5 linked regions of the Homo sapiens genome follow. The protein of the gene in region 1 purifies or fractionates together with the protein of each later gene. This does not show direct contact. Each region holds a gene or a part of one and is shown on either strand. Other genes may lie near its edges. The genes, in order: RIC1, RIC3, S1PR3, EFNB2 and PACC1.

The links.
Region 2: the proteins of RIC1 (region 1) and RIC3 purify together in Homo sapiens (co-immunoprecipitation; one large-scale study listed by IntAct). This does not show direct contact.
Region 3: the proteins of RIC1 (region 1) and S1PR3 purify together in Homo sapiens (co-immunoprecipitation; one large-scale study listed by IntAct). This does not show direct contact.
Region 4: the proteins of RIC1 (region 1) and EFNB2 purify together in Homo sapiens (co-immunoprecipitation; one large-scale study listed by IntAct). This does not show direct contact.
Region 5: the proteins of RIC1 (region 1) and PACC1 purify together in Homo sapiens (co-immunoprecipitation; one large-scale study listed by IntAct). This does not show direct contact.

The regions. Positions count from the first base shown.
Region 1 is NC_000009.12:5,771,806-5,775,151, forward strand, and holds part of RIC1 (guanine nucleotide exchange factor subunit RIC1), read left to right. Parts: intron 1-758; coding exon 759-936; intron 937-1,086; coding exon 1,087-1,275; intron 1,276-2,152; coding exon 2,153-2,441; 3' UTR 2,442-3,346. UniProt on the Homo sapiens protein: The RIC1-RGP1 complex acts as a guanine nucleotide exchange factor (GEF), which activates RAB6A by exchanging bound GDP for free GTP, and may thereby be required for efficient fusion of endosome-derived vesicles with the Golgi compartment.
Region 2 is NC_000011.10:8,107,605-8,110,710, forward strand, and holds part of RIC3 (protein RIC-3 isoform a precursor), read right to left. Parts: coding exon 3,094-3,106; 3' UTR 1-3,093. UniProt on the Homo sapiens protein: Molecular chaperone which facilitates proper subunit assembly and surface trafficking of alpha-7 (CHRNA7) and alpha-8 (CHRNA8) nicotinic acetylcholine receptors.
Region 3 is NC_000009.12:88,989,638-88,994,597, reverse strand, and holds the start of S1PR3 (sphingosine 1-phosphate receptor 3), read right to left. Parts: upstream 3,131-4,960; 5' UTR 2,903-3,130; intron 2,747-2,902; exon of another isoform or gene 1-2,746. UniProt on the Homo sapiens protein: Receptor for the lysosphingolipid sphingosine 1-phosphate (S1P). S1P is a bioactive lysophospholipid that elicits diverse physiological effect on most types of cells and tissues.
Region 4 is NC_000013.11:106,490,017-106,494,387, forward strand, and holds part of EFNB2 (ephrin-B2 isoform 1 precursor), read right to left. Parts: intron 3,413-4,371; coding exon 3,024-3,412; 3' UTR 1-3,023. UniProt on the Homo sapiens protein: Cell surface transmembrane ligand for Eph receptors, a family of receptor tyrosine kinases which are crucial for migration, repulsion and adhesion during neuronal, vascular and epithelial development.
Region 5 is NC_000001.11:212,383,799-212,388,169, reverse strand, and holds part of PACC1 (proton-activated chloride channel), read left to right. Parts: intron 1-1,069; coding exon 1,070-1,279; intron 1,280-2,744; coding exon 2,745-2,896; intron 2,897-4,371. UniProt on the Homo sapiens protein: Chloride channel gated by pH that facilitates the entry of chloride ions into cells upon exposure to extracellular acidic pH. Involved in acidosis-induced cell death by mediating chloride influx and subsequent cell swelling.

The sequences.
Region 1 (3,346 bases):
CCCTCCCCCATGTGGCCGTCACTCAGCTTACATCACTAATGGCCACATATGTTTGTTGTACCTCCCCACTCTTGTATTAACTGAAGAAAATCCATGACATATTATCTATAAATATTTCAGTTTTTTTCCTACAAGGACTCTTTAAGAATTATGACCAAAATACCATTATCATCCCTATAAAAATTTGATAATTCCTTGGTACCATCAAATATCCATTAAGTATTCAGATTTCTAATTGTTTCATAGACATCATAATTTTGTATAGGTTAAGATTTAAATAAGGTTCACATATTGTGATTGTGTTCTTAATTCTCTTTTTAAGTGGATGTTCCCCCACCCTCTCCTTTTCCCTTCCTTGCAGTTTATTCATGGAAGAAATTTGGTTTTGTGGATTTTCTCACAATAATGATTTTGCTTATTACATCTCCATGGTTTAGTTTAACAGTTTCCTCTATTTCCTGTAGTAGCTGAATGTAAAGACTTGGTCAAACTCTAGCTAGATTTTATTGAGGGAGTTGGGGAAGACTGCTTCATAGGTGGTGGTAGTATATTTTTCCATCTAAAGGTACATAATGTCGGTTATCTAATTCTTTCTTTAAATGTTTTCTATGTTCACATGGTAATTTTAGCCATGGATTTCATGTTTTAGTTTCAAGATCCTGAGAAATCAACATCTGAGGAACAGCTAATATTTAAAATTAAAGGAAAATATATTTTCTCCACGAAGTTGGTTGTAACTTTTGGCAATTCTTCATCAGGTGATGAATGCAGTATTGGTTCAGCCACAGACTTGACTGAAAGTAGCTCCATGGTGGATGGCGACTGGACAATGGTGGATGAAAATTTCTCTACACTCAGTTTAACTCAGTCAGAGCTGGAGCACATTTCCATGGAGTTGGCCAGTAAAGGGCCTCATAAATCCCAGGTCCAGCTTCGGTGAGTTTCTTGGCTATTTGAAATCACAGAATGCCTACTCAGAGTATTTGGGCAAATAGGTATGGGGCTACTCTCCTAATAATCATTGCACTTCTGTACATCTTATAGATCTTTCTTAGCATAAATCATTTTGTTTCTGCTTATATTTAGGTATTTGCTACACATTTTCATGGAGGCAGGGTGCCTAGACTGGTGCATCGTTATAGGCCTGATTCTTAGAGAATCCTCAATAATCAATCAGATTTTGGTTATTACACAGTCTTCAGAGGTAGATGGAGAGATGTTACAGAACATAAAGACAGGGCTCCATGCAGTGGACCGATGGGCCTCTACAGACTGGTAAGTGCTGCTTTCCTTAGGCTTGGTGTCCTTCCATGTCTTTTGGTGAATCCTGTCCTTTCACATTAAGGCCTAGTTATGGTTCATGTGTTACATTTTATTTATTTATTATATATTATTTATTATATGTTCATTTTTAAGCTACTTTCTTTAGTAATCATTCTATACCCAGCTATTTAAATGGATAATTCCATCGAGTAAGGTTACACTGTTGGTCAGTGTATAATTTATAGTGTGAATGTATATCACTGACTTAAGATTGATGCAGTGCAAATGAGCTTAGAATTAGACTGGAACTTCAGATTTGCATCCCTGTGAAATTGAAAGCAATGGTCTACAAATATCTACTTGAAAAGATTCAAACTTAAGGTCCATGTGAATTTAACATTCCATGGCAGTTACAAGCAAATCCAAATTAGAGTTGTGGTTGCAGTTAAGAGCCTTGGACTCTAGCCCTGTCTTTATTACCAGTTAATGTGTGTATTTGGAGCTAGTTACTTCCCTTACTTGGATCTGGTTTTCCTTAATTGGCAAATGCATTTAGGTTAAATGTTGTCTGAAGGTCCTTTTTCAAGTCTAAGCTCCTGTTGGCCTTTCAATTGTAAAATATAATTTTTAGTTGTAATACTGGTTCTAAAACATCAGCCTTTGCCCCTAATGCTTAGAAACTTAAGCCTCAGGCTTATGCAATGTGCAGCCCCCTCTGCTGGGCAGGACAGCCAAGAAGCCTTTCCTCCCTACCTTCTTTGCCTCCTCTCTCCCCTCCTAATCTATCGTCGTCTTTACCATATCAATGTTCAGTAGAAGTTCACCCGTAATGTTCTACCAAACCTTTTGAATTATGGCAGATGAGCTAATGTTTTTTTTCTCTACATAGTCCTGGATATAAGCCATTTTTAAACATCATTAAGCCACAACTGCAGAAGCTCAGTGAGATAACAGAAGAGCAGGTCCAGCCAGATGCCTTCCAACCAATAACTATGGGTAAGACTCCAGAACAGACTAGCCCCCGGGCAGAGGAGAGCAGGGGCTCCTCCAGCCATGGAAGCATCCCCCAGGGTGAAGTTGGAAGCAGCAATATGGTCAGCCGGAAAGAGGAGGACACAGCCCAAGCAGAGGAGGAAGAACCTTTTCAGGATGGGACTTACGACTGTTCTGTGTCCTAACAGTGAGGTTCCATCACAAAGGGGCAGTATTAATTAGCAGCAGCGTGCAGCTCAGTACGTTGTAACATAGTTGGATGATTTAACAGGAGAACTCAGTTCAGAGACTCTTCGGTAAGTATTAGTAGATTTTAACTAATTCTTTCTTGTCTAAGAAATCTTTTTGACTCCATAAAAATGTGATATAAAGCATCTTTCATAAAAAAATTTTAAGCTGCAGTGAAAAGTAAATATTGTACAGATGTACATGAGAATATTTTGGTTTTACTCAAAGGTTGGTAGCTCTTAAACCACAGGAATTGTTTTGCCCCAGGTGAGCTTACTTTTTCACTACTTACATCTTCTCACATTTCCCGGTTCTGCATTATGTCCAGATTGCTTTTTAAAAAATAAATGCTAAGGTGCTTGCTATAGTCTGTCAGGTACTTGAGCTACCTGTTTGCTCCCTTGGATACAGCTGGACTCTTTAATCAGTCCTCCTGAATAGATTGCTACCCTGGGGCACAATATGTGCCAGTGTGATGGAAACATTCTCCTTGGCTTTACTAGCCAGTCAAATCCCAGTCCAGAATTGATGGAAGCTATTTACCTGTGAGTTAATGTGCTTGTTTTAGCAAGCTTGATTCCCATTAGACCAATGTGGGCAGAGGTCTGAGGGGGTTCTTCTCAATTTTGCTGTTAGATACCACTAAACTATTTTGTATTAAAGAACAGTATCTTTTTGTGAATACTCTTGTGTAAATATATTCAAAGGCACTGTTCATATTTTAGGGCTTGTATTATAATTTGCAAGGTTTTAATGCTGGATTCTGCATGTCTACACATACAAAGACAGGGCTTGCTCCTCTGCAAAACTGAGGAAGACAGGTTTATTGGCTTGGTCATGAAGTAACAGAAATGGTCACACT
Region 2 (3,106 bases), on another chromosome or scaffold:
TTCTCAAAGGCCGTTGATTCTACAGGCCAAATACACCTCCACTCCTCATCACGACTCCCTGGGCCCAGCTTCTGGAGCTAGTCATGGAGATAATGGTTTCTTTGTGCTCCTGTTGTGACCAGGAAAGGGGATCTCCTGGCTGCACCACCCACCTGATTTACCAAGAGTGATCCCAGATTATGCAGTTGTTTTGTGAGCTAACTGTCCATAAAGGTATGACTTGTGTACTCTGCCACAGTGCCAAAAGGCCAGGGGACTGATCAAGTTCCCAGCACCCTCGTGAGAAATGAAGACCGCAAGAAAAGAGACAGCAGCCCTGGCAACAAAAACCGGACCCATGATTTTGTCATCCTGGGTTGTATATACACATATAACTGTCATCCCCGAAGGATAAAATAATTCTGGAAAATCCAAAAAGAATTTTCTAAATCCTAAATAACTGAAAGGTACATCCAAATGTCTGATATATAAATACACAAATATATTCCTTATATATAAACCAACCAAGAGCTAGGGCAGGAAGAACCACCATAAGGGCTTAGTACTTCTGGCAGGAATTTCCATAAGCCAATTTTCCCCAAAGACCAACAACACTTTACATAACAGCCTCACCAAAATACTTGAACATCCATGTATTTTCACACCCTACTGCTTTTTTCAACAACTCTTTCTGCCAAGAGTGTCCTCTCTTCTTTGCCTACCTGAAGAAGTTCTTTGCATGCCTCAAGGCCCACCTCCCAAGAAACTGTGAAGTTTCTTGGCAATACTTTAGCAAAAACAATTTATCTTTCCTGTAGTTTTGGGCCCATGTCTGAATTACAGCATAGCCCTTATAATAAAAACATAATTACCACTTAATGAGTGGTTATCATGTATGAGCTAGAACCAATGCTGTTTTACACACACTGATGATTTCATTTAACCAGGACCTTTAATACCCCTCCCTTTACTACCCTGAAGCCAAAGCTCAGACCAGTTAAGGAGCTGACCCAAGATTCCACAGCTAGAAAATGCAGGGACAGATTATGGCTCATGTTTCTCTGCCTGCAGGATTCACGATCCTGAGCCCTCTTACAGGGTCATAGTTCATTTTATCTGTCAGGCTCTCTCTCGTCACACTGAGTTTTCTGAGGGTAGAGATTGAGCCTCTGTTCCTAGCACCTGGCACTGAGCAATTGACTGCTAAATGAATGAATGAGCTAGAAGAGAACAGCAGTATTTATCTCTAATAAGGGAATCCTATCCTAAGGCCAAAAGTAAACCTGAGCCAGGAACCCAGGGCTCTCCTCATGAATCAACCCCTCACAGTGAACGAAGGGAAATAACACAGAAAACAATTTATCTAAACAGTAAAGAGCACCTGTTATTTTTCACCTTTCGTGTACAATACATCTAGATTGCATTCAGTATATTTTAAACTGCATTCTTCACAATGTGAATCAAATGTTCTACACAGAGATAGATGCAATATGCTTTCTATAAACTCAGTCTTGAATGACTTTCTGTAACTCAATTAACAATAAATGCCTAGTAGTAGCTGACAGATTATCTTAATATGATCCCATACCTTCTAACAGCAGTCTGTATGCTGATGTATAATTTTAAACTGTTTTCCTGGCACCTTATTCATGCCAAGCATAATGTAACTCTAAAAGCCATATCTACCTTTACATAATGTCTTAATTTTCCAGTCTTCTACATTTCATGACTGGGAATGTCTTTGGGAATGTGCCCTCTTCGAACTCTCAGGTCTTACATGTAAACTGAATTCACACATACCTCATGATGTAATTCATGGGTGCTATCTTGTCTCAAGAAGACACACGTCAGATGCAGTAAGGAGAAAAGGCCTTTAGTTTGGTCAAAATCCTCCCAGTCTTAATCTAGTTGCTGCTACTTTCCCCAGCTCTCTCAAAAAGACCCAAATATCCGAGTATGGAACACATGGTCTCTACCCCTGGGCACTGCTATATTGGTTCTCTGCAACAGACATACTCCAACTTCCCTCTTGAGTTGGCACTTTGTATACAAGATCAGTCCTCATTTGTTTCAATTTATGGTTCTGAGAAGAAATTTCTCAAAGGGTGCAACATTCAGAAACAGCTTTAGGTAAGGACTGTCCATAAGCACACAGATTCTCTCCCCTATTGCTGGCTTCCTGGCCTTCTGAGCTCCTCATGGCAGGAGCAGAATTCACAATCTTGAGCCCTCTTATAGGGTTGCAGCCTCCTCATGGCAGGACCATCCCTGGGCAGGGCTTCCTGCAGCTTCAATGGCCTCAAGTCTTGACTCTGCAGGGCAGGGTCTAAAGTCTCTATCTAAAGCTTCCTCTGTCCACTGAAAACCAGGAGTGCAAAGGTACTTCTGGGCTTGGCAGTTCTGTTAAGCAGAACAGGGGTAAAGGAAGCTAGATATCCAGGTAGTATCAGAGTAAAACAGTCCCCAAACAAGCCTCTGGGCTCATTCTCAGATCAGTGGGAGTCTTCCCTACTCTGGAGAAAAGAGGATGTCTGAGGCAGCATCAATGTTCCTAGGAAGACCCTCGCTGCGAGGAAGAGGCTTCAGCTTAGACAGCAGAGTCTTACCCTCCTCTGGGCCCATTAGCCCCACAAACAAAATGTTCTCTTCTCACCAGGGGACTACTAACCTGCTCAAGGCCCAAAGAATAAGGGATCTTGGAGTCTGAAATCTTCATTCTTGCAACCTTAAGTCCTCATCATCTGTAAGCTGATGTTCGTTCACAGGTGAACTATCTGTTACACCTACCAGGAAGAGTCAGACCTTTGCCCCTGAGTGGTCCCATCTGTAATTACAATAGACCAAACATAATTACTTAATGGATCAACTTCTCTGATAGAGGAAAGGCAGGAAGAGAAAGAGCGAAGCTGTCCTGTGTTCACACTAATGTCCGTGTTTTACAAGGTGACAGGTGTGTGAGCACCAGGAAGGATACATGATATCCATGATAGTGGCCTGATAGCTATGACACTTGAACACAGTGAAGAAAGTGCAGGGCACAGGGCCAAGAAGGAAATCTGAGGAGAGAGAGGTCACCTTGGGACTTGAGTAATGGATACTTCAGACTGGCTGTTTTCACTCTAAACCC
Region 3 (4,960 bases), about 83 Mb from region 1:
GGCAAGTGCGTCTGAGCCAGGAGGTGTTTGACCGCTTTGCCTGTCCATGAGTCTTTTTAAACCTTCTCCATTCTGCTGCTGCTTCATGACAGCATAGGATAAATGATTCTCAAGATTTCCACAGGGATGAATCCACAGGGATGTGGAAATAGGCTCTGTGAGGTGGCTAAAGGCACATTCAAATAAGAGGCATCCTGCCCACGAAGGCTACCGGAGATCCTTCCTATCCCTTCCCAAAGCGGCAGTCTCACCTGGTGACTCGGCATGCGTGCCACCTTGCACCATGGACATAGCACACATGGCCTCATGGCAGCATCTGCCTTCTGAATGTACACAGGAGGAGACCGAGGCTGGGGGAGGGGGGGTGTCACTTGTCCTTAGTCACAGAGCTGGGAAGGGGCTGGGCCGGTGTCCGTGCCATCTGATTCCAGGATGTCACATTAGGGATGAGCTCTTTGGGAGGCTGCCACCTTGCCACTGGTTCTTTGCCTAGGTAGTGACAAGAGATTCTCTGGCATGTTTTAGAGACAAACTGCCTCATGCTCCCATGCCAGCAGAATGTTAGCATGTCATTCTGGGGGCACTGAAATATCTGGAAAATTTTGAAGCCAGGAAAATGGAGCGGCATCTGCAAGGCCGAAGAGCACCATCCACTGCTTGAGGAGCGGACCGTCACCTCGCTGTGTGAGCTGACCCCAGTCCGGCCTGTGAGCAGTGAAGATCCACTCACTGGGCACCAATCTGCACTGGACAATCTCGTCACTGATTTAACCCAACTGGCCTATTGTCTCTTACAGACACAGCTTCAATGCCTCAAAAATAGGATTCAAAAAAGGGAAGGAGACTTTATGCCCAGTAGCTATAACAGTAACATCAACTGAAACATGTTATTAACTGAAACTAGATACGATTCCACTCAGTCTATTCTTTTTCTTTTTTCTCAAACATTATACATTTCCAAAAGCTTAAGGAAAATCTTAAGGCAATTAATTTGGCAGAAAACATATGGCAGAGGAATAATAGGAAATGCCTCCAAAACTGATAAGAAAGGAATTACAAAGCCAAATATGAAGAAACAGAAAGTTTCATAGAACCCACAGCACAGCACCCTGGTTCCAGCTAAGGTAAACAGACTGCATAAGGCTGGCGGCCTGGCTCTGGTAACACTTGGGAAACAGTACAAAGTCCTGGCAGTTAAAGGGTTCTACAGCAGGGCAACCTCAGATTTTTCAAGATTGTGGCATGCTCAAATTCTCCTTTTTTTGGTAATAAAAATATACCTACAGTATATAATAAAAATATACATACAGCACAGGCATTGAGGAAGATGAAAGAGATACCATGAAATCAAGTTAATGTCATAATTTCCAGAAAGAGGAAACCAGTTCCTGAATTTTGAGAAATAAGATCCTTCGGCCACTATGTGAAGTTTCTTCTATAGGAAACTGTAGTCTCTACCCTTTGTATATGGTAGAAAATCAGAGACTCATGCATTTGAATAAAAATCACAATGATAAAGGGAGAAATGGCACTTTCAAAGATGAAAACTGGTTGAGAAATCATTCTCTCTAAATCTTAGGGGGAGGCTCTTAAGGGCTAGCTTCAGTTTGTATCTCTGGTGTTAGGTGATGGAAGTGATTTCAGAGGCCCAAAGTGAGTGCTTACTGGTTTGCTAATGAAAAAAGCCTGACGTGCGGTTCTTCTTCTATGGCAACAAAGTTATTCAACCTAGCATTAAGGTCTGCATCCATGAAATAATACTTTACAGATATGAACACTTCCACAACTCCTCAAGCGCACACACACACACACACACACATGCCCCGCACCATCACCACCTCCTCAACCAACACCAGCCCTGGGCATGGCCAGCTATCCTTGTTAGTCATGTATCTGCAGAGCATAATCCTTCCCTTGTACTTTCTAGGAATTATATTTTTCTTAACTATGCCTGCAAGATTTTCATCTATGAATAAAAAACATTGAAAAGATAAATTATGAATATGTGGTTATATACAAAGTCTGTGACTTCTAATGTCCAGATTTTAGAATGATGCCTAATTCTGGAGGTCTCAGAGGTCCAAGTGGGAGTGGGTACCATGAATGGGGGGGCCTCCATTTAAAAGTAACCTTCTAAAGAGCTCTCTGTTCCTGTAGCTCCCCTTTCCTTATTGGAAGGGTCAAAACGAAGTGTGTTCCCTTAAAAATCCAACAAGAAGTTCCTCTCTTATATCCAAATATAAAAACACCACAAAGAAATATACCATTGGGAGTGTCCAAAGCCAGAAAGTCAGAGGAAGAGAGAGAGAGAGAGAGAGAGAGAGACTGACTATTGGGAGACTCAAAAAGCCCAAAGCCCCTTCTCTAGCTGTTATCTCAGTTACGAACACAACGTACTGATTTTCCGTGGGAACCTCATTATTGCACTGTGGGGACTTCGTCTTCCAGCACCGATTCTGACGGCCCTAATTGCCTTGTTTGAGAAATGTTAGGAAAAAACTAATTTTCCGGCGAATATTGTTTAAAAGAATGATTTTCCCAGGCTAACGACCACAACCCTCTCCCACGTCCAGCATCCCCAGGCCCTGGCACTGTGGAAGCCTAACTTGTTAATTGTCCAAGGAAAACGACTGATGGAACTTCTCCACGAACAGCCTCTCCACTTTCATCCAGGTATTCAGCTCCAGCCCGTTGTAAACGCTCCGGGTGCGGTGGAAAAGGCCTCCTCCCTGTTCCTGCAGCGGCTCTGGGGGAGGGGTGCTGATGTGGAGCGCTCCGGCCGCCGTGGCGCGCCCAAGTCCCCGTCGCGCCCGGGATCGGTGGGGATTTTGTTGGAAAGGTGGGTCCTTCGGCCCCCAGCCCCCCACCCTGGTTCCGCGCCCCGCCCGGGCCCGCCTCTCACCTCCGTCGGCTGAGGGCGCTGGGGCCACCGGCATCCTAGCGGGTGGCGCGCGGCGGTGCCGGGGCGCCCGGTCCTGCGCTCGAATGCCAGATGGGCTGGGAGGCCCGGCAGTCTCAGCGCTCGCGACGTCGTTCCCGGGCCTGGGGTCCTGCTCGGTCGCGTCCTGCAGCCGCCTTCTGGTCCCTGAGTCCCTGTTGCCCGTCCCCGGAACCGGCTTCCTCGGCCTCTGCCCGAGCGAGTCAGAGACTAAACTTTTCCAGCGGCCCGCCGGGGCGGGACCCGCGCTCCGCCCCTCCCCTCGCCGCCCCCGACTCCCGCCCCTCTCCCCGCCCCCCTCTCCCCGTCCCCCGCCCGCGAACCCGGCACTCCTCCAGCTCCCCACCTCCCGCTCAAGCCGCCTGGTCTCCGTGCGCCCCGCCCGCCCCTAGCCTGGACCCCTTCTCCCCGACCCTACCAATCCCCTAGGGTCCGGCTCGCCCTTCGGCCCCTGTTCCCAGGCCGGCCTCCAGACCTTGTCCTCATCGGGCGAGCTCCAGGTGCAGAAACCGGGCGCCCAGAGACCCAGCGGGAACAGGCTTGGAACCAGGTCCGAGGTCTGGGCTTGGGCGGGCGCCTGTCGCCCTGACAGCGAGGGTTTGTTTGGGCCGATTCTTAATAGGAGGATTAATACTATCATTATCGTTGTCCAGATCCTGACCATTTCTTTTGTAACTGGCCGAGCACCGGCTTGGGCTTGCAGGTGGGCGCCTGGCGCCGGACAGCGTTTTTGTTTGGGCTTCTTCCTTTTCCGCGCGGGTCCCCTCCGGCGCCTGCCTGGTCCCTCTCCGCGCTCTACCCCCAGGCACGCAGAGACTTGGGCTCCAGGCGGGGGCAGCACTCTCCCCCAGCCTCTGCTGGTGCACCAGAGCCCACTCCGGCACAGAGCAGCGCCCCTCCTAGACCGGCAGCCAGCAGATCTCAGCCGACCCCCATGCGACCCCCTTCCTCACGCGGATTTGCCCCTTTTGTGTGGCAAAAATAATAATAATAATAATAAATCCATATGAAGGCTTCAAACAGAATTCCGAGAGAAGGAACTGCCAAATTTTCAATCAATGCCAAAGGCCATGATTGAGCGAACACAGAAACAACTGTAGAAGCTTGGGGAGAAAGGAGAAAATTAAAGAAAAAGGAGGAGGAGGAAAAGGAGAGAGGAGAGAAGCGGGAGGAAGAAGACGAAAAAGCAAGGAGAGGCCTGTTATCCGACCGTGCATTCCTGGGCCGGCAGGATTGGGCCGCAGGGGCCGCTGCAGAGAGTTGAGTTTGTGCAAAGGCCGCTCGTTACTTTCTGTCTTTTGCCCTCTTGCCTCCAGAGGATCAGCCCAGCGCATCCTTCTCTTGGAGCAGGGTGCATACGCTTATTTGGGGTGCAGTTTGAGCGGTGAAGGGCACCAAGAGTGGAAGTCGGCGGCACTCCTGTTCCCTGCAGAGAAACGCAAGCCCTCAGCAATTGAGCTGAAGGAGGCAAGTGACTCTGCCTGCTGAGGCTGCCAGCCCTAGAGGCTCTGGCCCCCGGGAGCTGGGGTACTTCCCAGCGTTTTCGCCTAAGCCACTTCGCCTGTGCTACTGTGGAGTCTTCCGGCACTGTAGCCTTCCAACTTGTTCAAAGTGCCTGGTGCACGGCTCTGAGAAGCCACTTCTGTCCCAAGTTTCATGTGGGCCTGAATGTGCTTCCCTTTGTTGGACTCCTACAGCATCAAGTCAAGAAAAGAAGGAAACATGCTCCTTTGGCATTGGTCACAACCAGGATAACAATACAGCATACTGTGGCCACTGTGTCTATATTACCAAAGTGGTCAGTAGGTTCATCACACCTCTGTTCAATTAGTTGCTTCCCGTGATGAAAAATTTACTGCTAGGATACTGGCTGAGGGTTGTTTTAAGGGGCACCCAAGTCTCCGTTCCTAGAGAAAGTCAGTTACCCTGATATAACAGAGCAACCTTGAGGCGTGGTGATGCCTCCAAAACTAGTCTGCGGAATCGGAGCCCAGAAGCCCTGAGGAGTAATGTGGCTCTCAT
Region 4 (4,371 bases), on another chromosome or scaffold:
GGCAACCTTTTATACCATTTTTTCCTCATTACAGTGCAAAGGGGAATGACACTGCCGTTAAACAAGCTGTAGCTAAATACATTGCAAAATTCAGATTTTATACAAAACATCTTGCTTAGACTTTATAAAAAACCAACATTGCTCTATGTACACAATCTGGGTAAGAAAAGCCATTTCTTTCTTGTTTTCATGTGTATTTTTATTAAAAAGGTGAATAAGGCTACTGTAACACCCCAAATCCATAGACAGTAAAATCTGAACCTATTTACAGCATCTTCACTGAAACATGATGGTGCAAATTCCAAAGTCGGGTGACCAGGGACGATCATACAAGCAAGGCATTTACAGTAACTTTCCAAAGCTAAACCAACTTCAAACAAAGGGACAGTTGGTAGATTGTCATATTCTGCACCAGACACAAAACAGACGCACAGAACACTTTTCAATTGGTTGCAGGGAACTCTTTTATCAATTCATCTGATTTTTCACAGTTTAGCATAGAACCAAAACGTAGCCAACTGATGATACATACATTTGATTTCATTAAAATCAGACTATTTCCCATTTTTCCCCTTCTCGCCCCTCTCCCCCATCCTAAAAGTAACTTCTGATGGCTTACAAGAAACTCTTGCATGAATGCACAGAAAGGAGAGGTTGGGGTGATGGAAAGAATTACATATGTACTGTGGCTGGTTACCATGGCAACCCTCCACAGAAATATGATATAGATATATATAATATATATTGTAGATATATATTATACATATATGTACACATGTATACCACGCACCCACTCACACATACACACACGCACTTTGGACCAACATCATTTCCAGGTTCAGGAAATAGAGGATCATAATTTCTGTGACAACTCATTTTTGCAGGTACTCACTGGAGGTCTGAGAACCTTAAAATGCTGTCGCTACATTTTTTTTCCCTTCCAATTCAGAAAGCAAAGTGTTACCATAGTAACAGGACTATGTTAAAGATGTCTATTTTGCATAGCACATAAAAAGTAGGTTTCCTGTTTACTCTTCTTGTTTCCCAGAAGGGAGGGGGTGCGGGGGAGGACAGGAGGAGGGAGCCACAGCTAAATCGTCACCTGAAGCCCCCAGTGTGACCTGCTGGATTCTAGAGAACACTTCAGCCCATAAGGCAAGGGAAAACCCAACGCAGAAATAAACGCCGGAACATCTTGTCATTGTTAAATATATGATGCAGTCACATCGGCTTCCTGCTCTGTGGGGCTCGTACTTCCTAGTCTACGGTTCCGTGAGATGCCTTCGGAGGACTTGGTTATTTTTGCATTTGCTCTCATTATTGTTCTTTTTGGAATGATGTTGTTTTTCCCAGAAGTAGCTGTCCAATTTGTTTTTTTAAGCGCTGAGCATTGGGACCACTTAATTGCCACAAATGAATTTCACATCTTCTGGTGTGTACTGTGTGCAACCTTAAAATATATATTAGTAAAAATCTTTCATTTTATATCCCTTGTGTTCTATATACCTATTATAAATACGTCCTATCTTCCTTCTCCCCCTGGACATCATAATTTACTTCCGTCTTAAGGACTCTAAGAGGTCTGCCGTATGTGCTTCACCTTGACACAGAGCACCGGGCGCTGCAGCCTCCATCAGTACCGACCCTGCAGCCCTGGCACCCGGACAGCACCGCATAAACCAAAGTGTCGTAAGGCTCAATCGGGAGGGGAAGGAGGAACCTGGGGGGAGGGGGATCTGACCTACCTTTTATAGATAAGGATTCTTTAATAACAACGATGATGATGGAATTACAGCCTGTTTGACCTTTGGCTTTTCAACTTTTAGGTCAGATTTGGCTCTCTGCTATTCTCCTAAATGCTTTCCCTGTGTTTAATAAAATGTGATAAGTATAGCAGCTGAGTCTGCTTAAAAAATCATCCAAAGCAGACCGACTCTCCTACAGCTCGGAGCTGTGTATCTTATTGCCAGTACCACAACAGTCCTGCCCGAATATATCATCAGCGGCCTACTTTCTCCCTTCCCTCCAAGCCTGTTCCTTTCCCAACAATACCCGTCTTTGTTCCCCGGAATGAAGAGGGGCTTTTCTTCCTGCACATCGCTATTTGATAACAGCGAGTGCCTCCCCATGCACTGGAATCCACTGTGTGTGCTGTCGTGTCTCCTACTGGCCTCTTCGATCTCAGCAAAACCAAAGTGCTGTGCTACCTAATTGCTTTTTTCTTTTTTCCTTTCCAACTTTCTGTTTCAGAGGCAGCAGCAGTGAGCTGCAATTGCAGCCAGCCCTTTCCCCAGCCCCACTCCCTTCTATGAACTCCTAGCCTTCTTCGCAGACAGCCTAGCATCTGGCTAAAGGGCACCTTGTTAGCAAACACAATTTCTATGAACGGATTACCCATGGACTGAAGCTGTTGTTGCCAGCGGCTGGAGGAGGGGACTCCAGACATGAGTGTTCCATGAGTGATGCAGATGTGGAGTGGAGGTCTCAGGTGAGGTGCTGCAGAGCCCTGGGTAACAGAACGAGTGAGACAGTAAGGACTAAACTCTAGAGATCTTTGCACACCTTAACTAGCCCGAGGTCCGTGTGACAAGTCCGGTATGCACTGCGGGGGAAATGCACCCCAGGCAGAAGCCGGCCCTTCCAGGCGTGGCATCCTGGGGCACCTGCCAGGATGCTCACAGCCCTCTCGTCCACAAACCACTGTCTTCCCTTGGCTTCTGCAGAGGCCTGAGTGACCGCAGCACATGGCTTCGAGGAGGAGACGTGGGACGCGGCACAGCAGTCCGAATGGGCGTCTTCTGCACAGTCTTCCAGCTTCCAGGGAGCGTGTGTGTTCACCAAGGCCGAATGCTACAAGACTAGGTAAGCTGTCCAGCGCGACGGGCTCTTCCGAGGAGGAGTGTCCCTCTCCCCCGGTGCTGTGCTTCAGTCAATTCTCCAGCACGCGGGCTCTCAAACCCTCAAGGGAGGCATCGGGACATTAGGTGTCCTCTGGGAAAGCACAGGTACCACCAGGGTCCCTCTCAGACCTTGTAGTAAATGTTCGCCGGGCTCTGCGGGGGCATCTCCTGGACGATGTACACCGGGTGCCCGTAGTCCCCGCTGACCTTCTCGTAGTGAGGGCAGAAGACGCTGTCCGCAGTCCTTAGCGGGATGATAATGTCACTGGGCTCTGAGCCGTTGTTGTTGCCGCTGCGCTTGGGTGTGGCCAGTGTGCTGAGCGACAGCGTGGTCGTGTGCTGCGGCGAGTGCTTCCTGTGTCTCCTCCGGTACTTCAGCAAGAGGACCACCAGCGTGATGATGATGACGATGAAGATGATGCATCCTGAAGCAATCCCTGCAAATAAGGCCACTTCGGAACCGAGGATGTTGTTCCCCGAATGTCCGGCGCTGTTGCCGTCTGTGCTAGAACCTGCAGACGCGGAGACAGAAAAGGTCAGAGATAGTTACTGCTGTCCCAGTGCAGACGGACTGCTTTTATGACCCTTAAAAATGTGAAAAATAAGCCAGGCTTATTACTAACTAGAAGCTGGACTTTGCCTCGCCAATACCTCGTCTAAGAGCTCAACGCAAAAGGAAATGAGAGGTATCTCTAGGAGGGACTTCCCTACCCTCCCAAGCCACAGGGTTTCCTTTGTATCATTATCCAGCAAGAGCACAGACTGTCGGTGACAGCCAGCCCTTGATCTTGCTTCATCTTCTAACCCGTGTCAGCCAGCCTGGGGCAGCGGCAGGGAAGAAAAAGGGAAGTGGCCAATTCTCCAGGTCAGCGGTGAGCGTTTATGTGGTATTGCTCTTCCGCCTCCTTTGAGAAAGGGAGTTTCATGCAAACCTTCAAAGGGCCTGCCTTCTAAAGAAGAGCCCTGCCTCCTGGCAGAACAGAACAGCTCGGGAACGCGGAAGGAGTGAGGGGGCCTGGGAAAATGTTCAGCTCGTAACTCGTCTGTATTATTTGATTTACACTTAAAATATATTTGGAAGGCAGCAGAAACTCTCACACCGAACAGACTGCCAGCCCAAATGTTAAGCACTAAAAAACTGCCTGGCATCATTATATTATCCATTTATCAGTTTGTCACAAGAATTTGACACATCTTGTCATTGAAAGTTAGAAATAACAACTTCCCTCCTTGACTCTTGGAAAGGGATGGAATATTGCTGCAGACGATAAATTTGCACAACGACCAAGCAAGCACACAACAATCCTAATACAAAACTGCTGATGTCTGCTCAACAGCTACTCTATAAAACCTTCATTAGCATGGTAACAAATACAGAACTATTTGTTCCAAGACTGTTAAGAAAACGAAGGTCAACGACGGACAATTTTATCTGGTATTCTACACTTTTGTCAGGGACCTGTTTAATATT
Region 5 (4,371 bases), on another chromosome or scaffold:
ACGTACAGGGCTCCCTGGGAACACTGAGGAAGAGGTGCCCAAATAAAGGTTAGGGGTCAGGAGAGGCTTCCTCAAGAAAATGTCTTTCTTTCTTTTTTCTTTTTTTTTTTTTTTTGAGATGGAGTTTCGCTCTTGTTGCCCAGGCTGGAGTGCAATGGAGTAATCTCGGCTCACTGCAACCTCCGCCTCCTGGGTTCAAGCAATTCTCCTGCCTCAGCCTCTTGAGTAGCTGGGATTACAGGCATGCGCCACCACGCCCAGCTAATTTTGTATTTTTAGTAGAGACAGGGGTTTCACCATGTTGGTCAGGCTGGTCTCGAACTCCCGACCTCAGGTGATCCTCCTGCCTCGGCCTCCCAAAGTGCTGGGATTACAGGCTTGAGCCACTGCGCCTGGCCAAGAAAATGTCTTTCTAAATTAAAATGCTTCCATGGAAGGATGGCGTGACCAAGCTACTCTGTCACTGTTGGAAGCCAGATGCCAAGCAAAAAGCTTTCGGGGCTTAGGATGAGTGAAGCATCAGCTGTGGAAGAAAAGAAAATCAAGCAGAGGGAATGGTAAGTGTGAGGGAATCCCGGGTTGAGAAGGGCACTCCAGAAGAACAGAAAGTCGATGAGTAGAGGTGGAGCTAGAGCTGGGAGAACTGGGGAAGTGGAGCAGTGAGGGATAAGGCCAGAGAGGTAGGTTGGGGCCAGCTCACTTGTTGGATTGTAACTGCCTATCCCTCTAGAGAGTAAACTCCTTTTTTCTGTTCTTTTTGTTTGTTTTTTGCTTTTTCTTTTAACATTTTTATCGTTTTTTATCTTTTATCTTTTTTCTTTTGAGAGTAAACTCCTTAAAGACAATGAATAAGTCTCCTTCAGCTTGGTGTCCTCTACCTGGCAGAGAAGCTGTGTAGTAAATGTTTACAGGTGCCCTTTGTTATGATTTGTGGGGTGAGGTGGAAAGGTTGGGCGTGCAGGTGACTTCACCTCCTTGGTGAGGCAGGCAAGGGCCTGGAGGTTGCTGGCCATCTCTGTCTGTACCTTGTCCCTGTGCCCTGGGTCACATGGTGTTTTGTTGTTGTCAGGCCTGGACAGCGAGTCCGCCTCCAGCAGCATCCGCTTCAGCAAGGCCTGCCTGAAGAACGTCTTCTCGGTCCTACTCATCTTCATCTACCTGCTGCTCATGGCTGTGGCCGTCTTCCTGGTCTACCGGACCATCACAGACTTTCGTGAGAAACTCAAGCACCCTGTCATGTCTGTGTCTTACAAGGAAGTGGATCGCTATGATGCCCCAGGTAGAGCCTGCCCCTGGGCCAGGCATCAGGGCCCCAGATCTAGGGTGTCAGCTGGCAGATACTCCCTGAGCTGCCGTTGTATTTGTGGTACTACGGGCAGGGCAGAGGAGTCCAACCAAGCATAGTCTAGGTATAGAGTCTATGCCCAAGGAGCTGCTGTTGGGAGTGTGTTACGTGCTGAGGACAGAAATGGACAGAGCCTGGAGCAGCTACTGCAGGCTACTAGAGGGGTCAGGGAAAGCTTGGCAGAGAGGTAGGATTTGAGATGGGCCTCGAAAAGCACATAGATGGGAAGAGAGTGTCTTTGGGATGGGGATCAGCAGAGCGAAGGGGTGTCTAGGGAGGCAGAGGGCTTCTCTGGAGAGGATGAGACTAACTTGGCTGGGGCCAGAGGGCAGGGATGAGGAGAAGCAGGAGTCAAGGCTGGACTGTGGGGTGGGGAGGATGGCAGGGGAGGCGAGGCCATTCAACCCTGCCTGGAGAGGGACTCCCAGGCCACACTGGGTATACCTGTCTCACTGGGGTGTCTGGTCCCTGAGTGGGGAGTCCACTCTGCTATAGAGCAAGCTATCTGCTCTGGGCTGCAGGGCTGGCACTGGATGTTCTAGGGGCTGTAGAGTAAATGAGGAGGCATGAGCTGTGTGACTTGGGCCCTGTCCACCCAGTGTGTGCCACCTGTTCTGCCCACAGATGCCCCTGAGTAACCTGTGGGAGGGCCTGCTCACATGGCAGAGCCAGAGTCCGGGTGCCCTCTCTCTGGGGCTTCCTGCCAGCCTCCAGCAGAGTCAGGTGTGCTGGTCATGGCTCCTCTGCCCATCTCTTCCTGTCTTGTGTTTGTCCCTCTTCTCTGTGTGTCTGCTTGAGTCTTCTTTATCTGTACGTTTTACTTTCTCTGTCTGGTGTCTTAGTGTCTCTGAAGTCTGTCTGTCTCTGATGCCATGTGCTGCTGTCTTAGCATTGCTGCCCTTGAGGCTGGACAGCTACTGTCAGTAGAGGTGCCTGGGCTGGGAAGAGGGAGGGACTCTTGGGATGTGACTTGCACACTTGGGGCTCCCAGTCTAAGAGACAAAATGAGTTCTGAGGAGTTCCACAGTTTAGAGCCTCCCAGTGATTCTGCAGGTGGGTGTTGGCCCAGAGGGGTGGCACAGGGGCTGAGTCAAGAGACACTCCTTCGGAGGGTGTGGAGCGGGGCTCTGAGGTGGAGTGGGTTTTGATGTGGGCATCAGGGCGGCTGGATCCCAGGTTGGCCAGGGGCTTACTGAGGAGGGGCTTGTGCCCTCTGCTACAGCGGGGCTTTCTGAGGCCAGGGGATGTGGCTCCTCACCCTCTGAAACCCTTTTCTTCTCCCTTCCCTGCAGTCCTCCAGGGAGTCCAGAACGTAGGTTGTTGGTAGGTGTGAGATGATTTCAGGGATGTGGTCAGGAGTGTGATTTCTGACACTTGCTTTTCCTGTTTGTGCCCCCAGGTATTGCCTTGTACCCCGGTCAGGCCCAGTTGCTCAGCTGTAAGCACCATTACGAGGTCATTCCTCCTCTGACAAGCCCTGGCCAGCCGGGTGACATGAATTGCACCACCCAGAGGATCAACTACACGGACCCCTTCTCCAATCAGACTGTGGTAATTCCTGTCTGCCTGAGCTGGGTCTGGGCAGCTGCTCTGTTAGCCCCGCAACCCAAGGCCCCAAGTTTCCTTTTTCCTAGGAGTCCTTCTTCCACTCACTCAGTGTGGGGCCTTAGTCCCCAAGGAGACATGCGGCTGTGCCATGTGGACACTTGGCTGTGGTTGGCTCACTTGCATTCAGGGAGGACAGTGAGGCCTCCAGCCTTTGCTGAGTAATGCTCAGGGATTCCTGACAGTGCGGTGAGACCCTGTCCCCAATGGAAGAATGGCAGGGCTAAAGGGTGGGGCTGGTGCGATATAGCGAAGTGGGTCCCATACCTGACCACTTGACAGAATTGCCAGGATACTTTTTGAAAATATGAATTTCTAGGTTCCATGTGAAGCCAACTGAATTATAATTCCTTAGGTGGGGCCTGAGAATCCATAGTTTGAAATTAATACGCCAGCGTAAAGGAGCGTCGGTCTGGGGACAAGGACTCCTGGGCCCTGGGCTGGCCATGCTGTCGTGCACAACACAGCACGGCTGGGAAGGATGACTGAGGGATGGGGTTAGGAGCGCCCTGGAGGAGTGGCACTGCACAGGGTTTCAAAGACAGGGTAGGCGTTTTGTATTGATTTACATCTCATCTTTTTCATTTCATATTCTTGCTTCAGAAAGCATTGAAAGGGGCTACAATAGTTTTCCAGATGAAATTGGGAAGGAAAGGTTTTCTAGGCAGAGGAAATTGCACCATGACCTAAAGGGAAGAGACGACATGTTGTACTTGTGCCTCTGGGCACAATTGCAGTTGGTGGGGAAATGTTTCATAGGGTCAGGAGCCCTGGAAGACTGATGGGTGATGAAGCTGTGGACAGAGTAATGGCCAGATGAGAAAAGAACATGCATCGTGCTGTAGAGCCACACTTGCTCCCTTGGGTAACAGGGAACTGTTAGTGGGTTTTAAGATGAAAGAATAACACTAATTTTTTTTTTGTTAGTATGTGAACGCTAGGCCCCCTCCTAAAATCCTGCTAAAATGATTCTCTAAGGAATGAGATAGAACAGACTAGAACATCAATAATAGCTTTGCACGTGAAGAAAGGATATCACCAGTGGACCAGACATTTTGAGGAACTGGTATAAAGCATAAAAAACAGCTTGGGCCAGATTGGTGGAGCAAACAAATTAGAGCAAATCCCTAACCCAAAACAGATGAAGGAGAGACCTGTTGTAGAGGTACAAGCTTTCCTTCCAAACCCCCAGCTTGGAATCAGCACCGTTAGAGAGCAGGGTAGTCATTACTGGACTGCCTGTTGGCTGGGCCAGACACACCCTATACCCTCCCCAGGTATGCAGAGCCGCTGGGGATGGTTGCCTCTGGGTAAAAGACCCTGGAACCATTCTCTACAGAAGCGAAGGGAAGATGATTCTTTGTGTAGGCATAGGAAACAGAGCAGACTTCTACAATGGAAAAGGAGAGAGAACTAAAGGA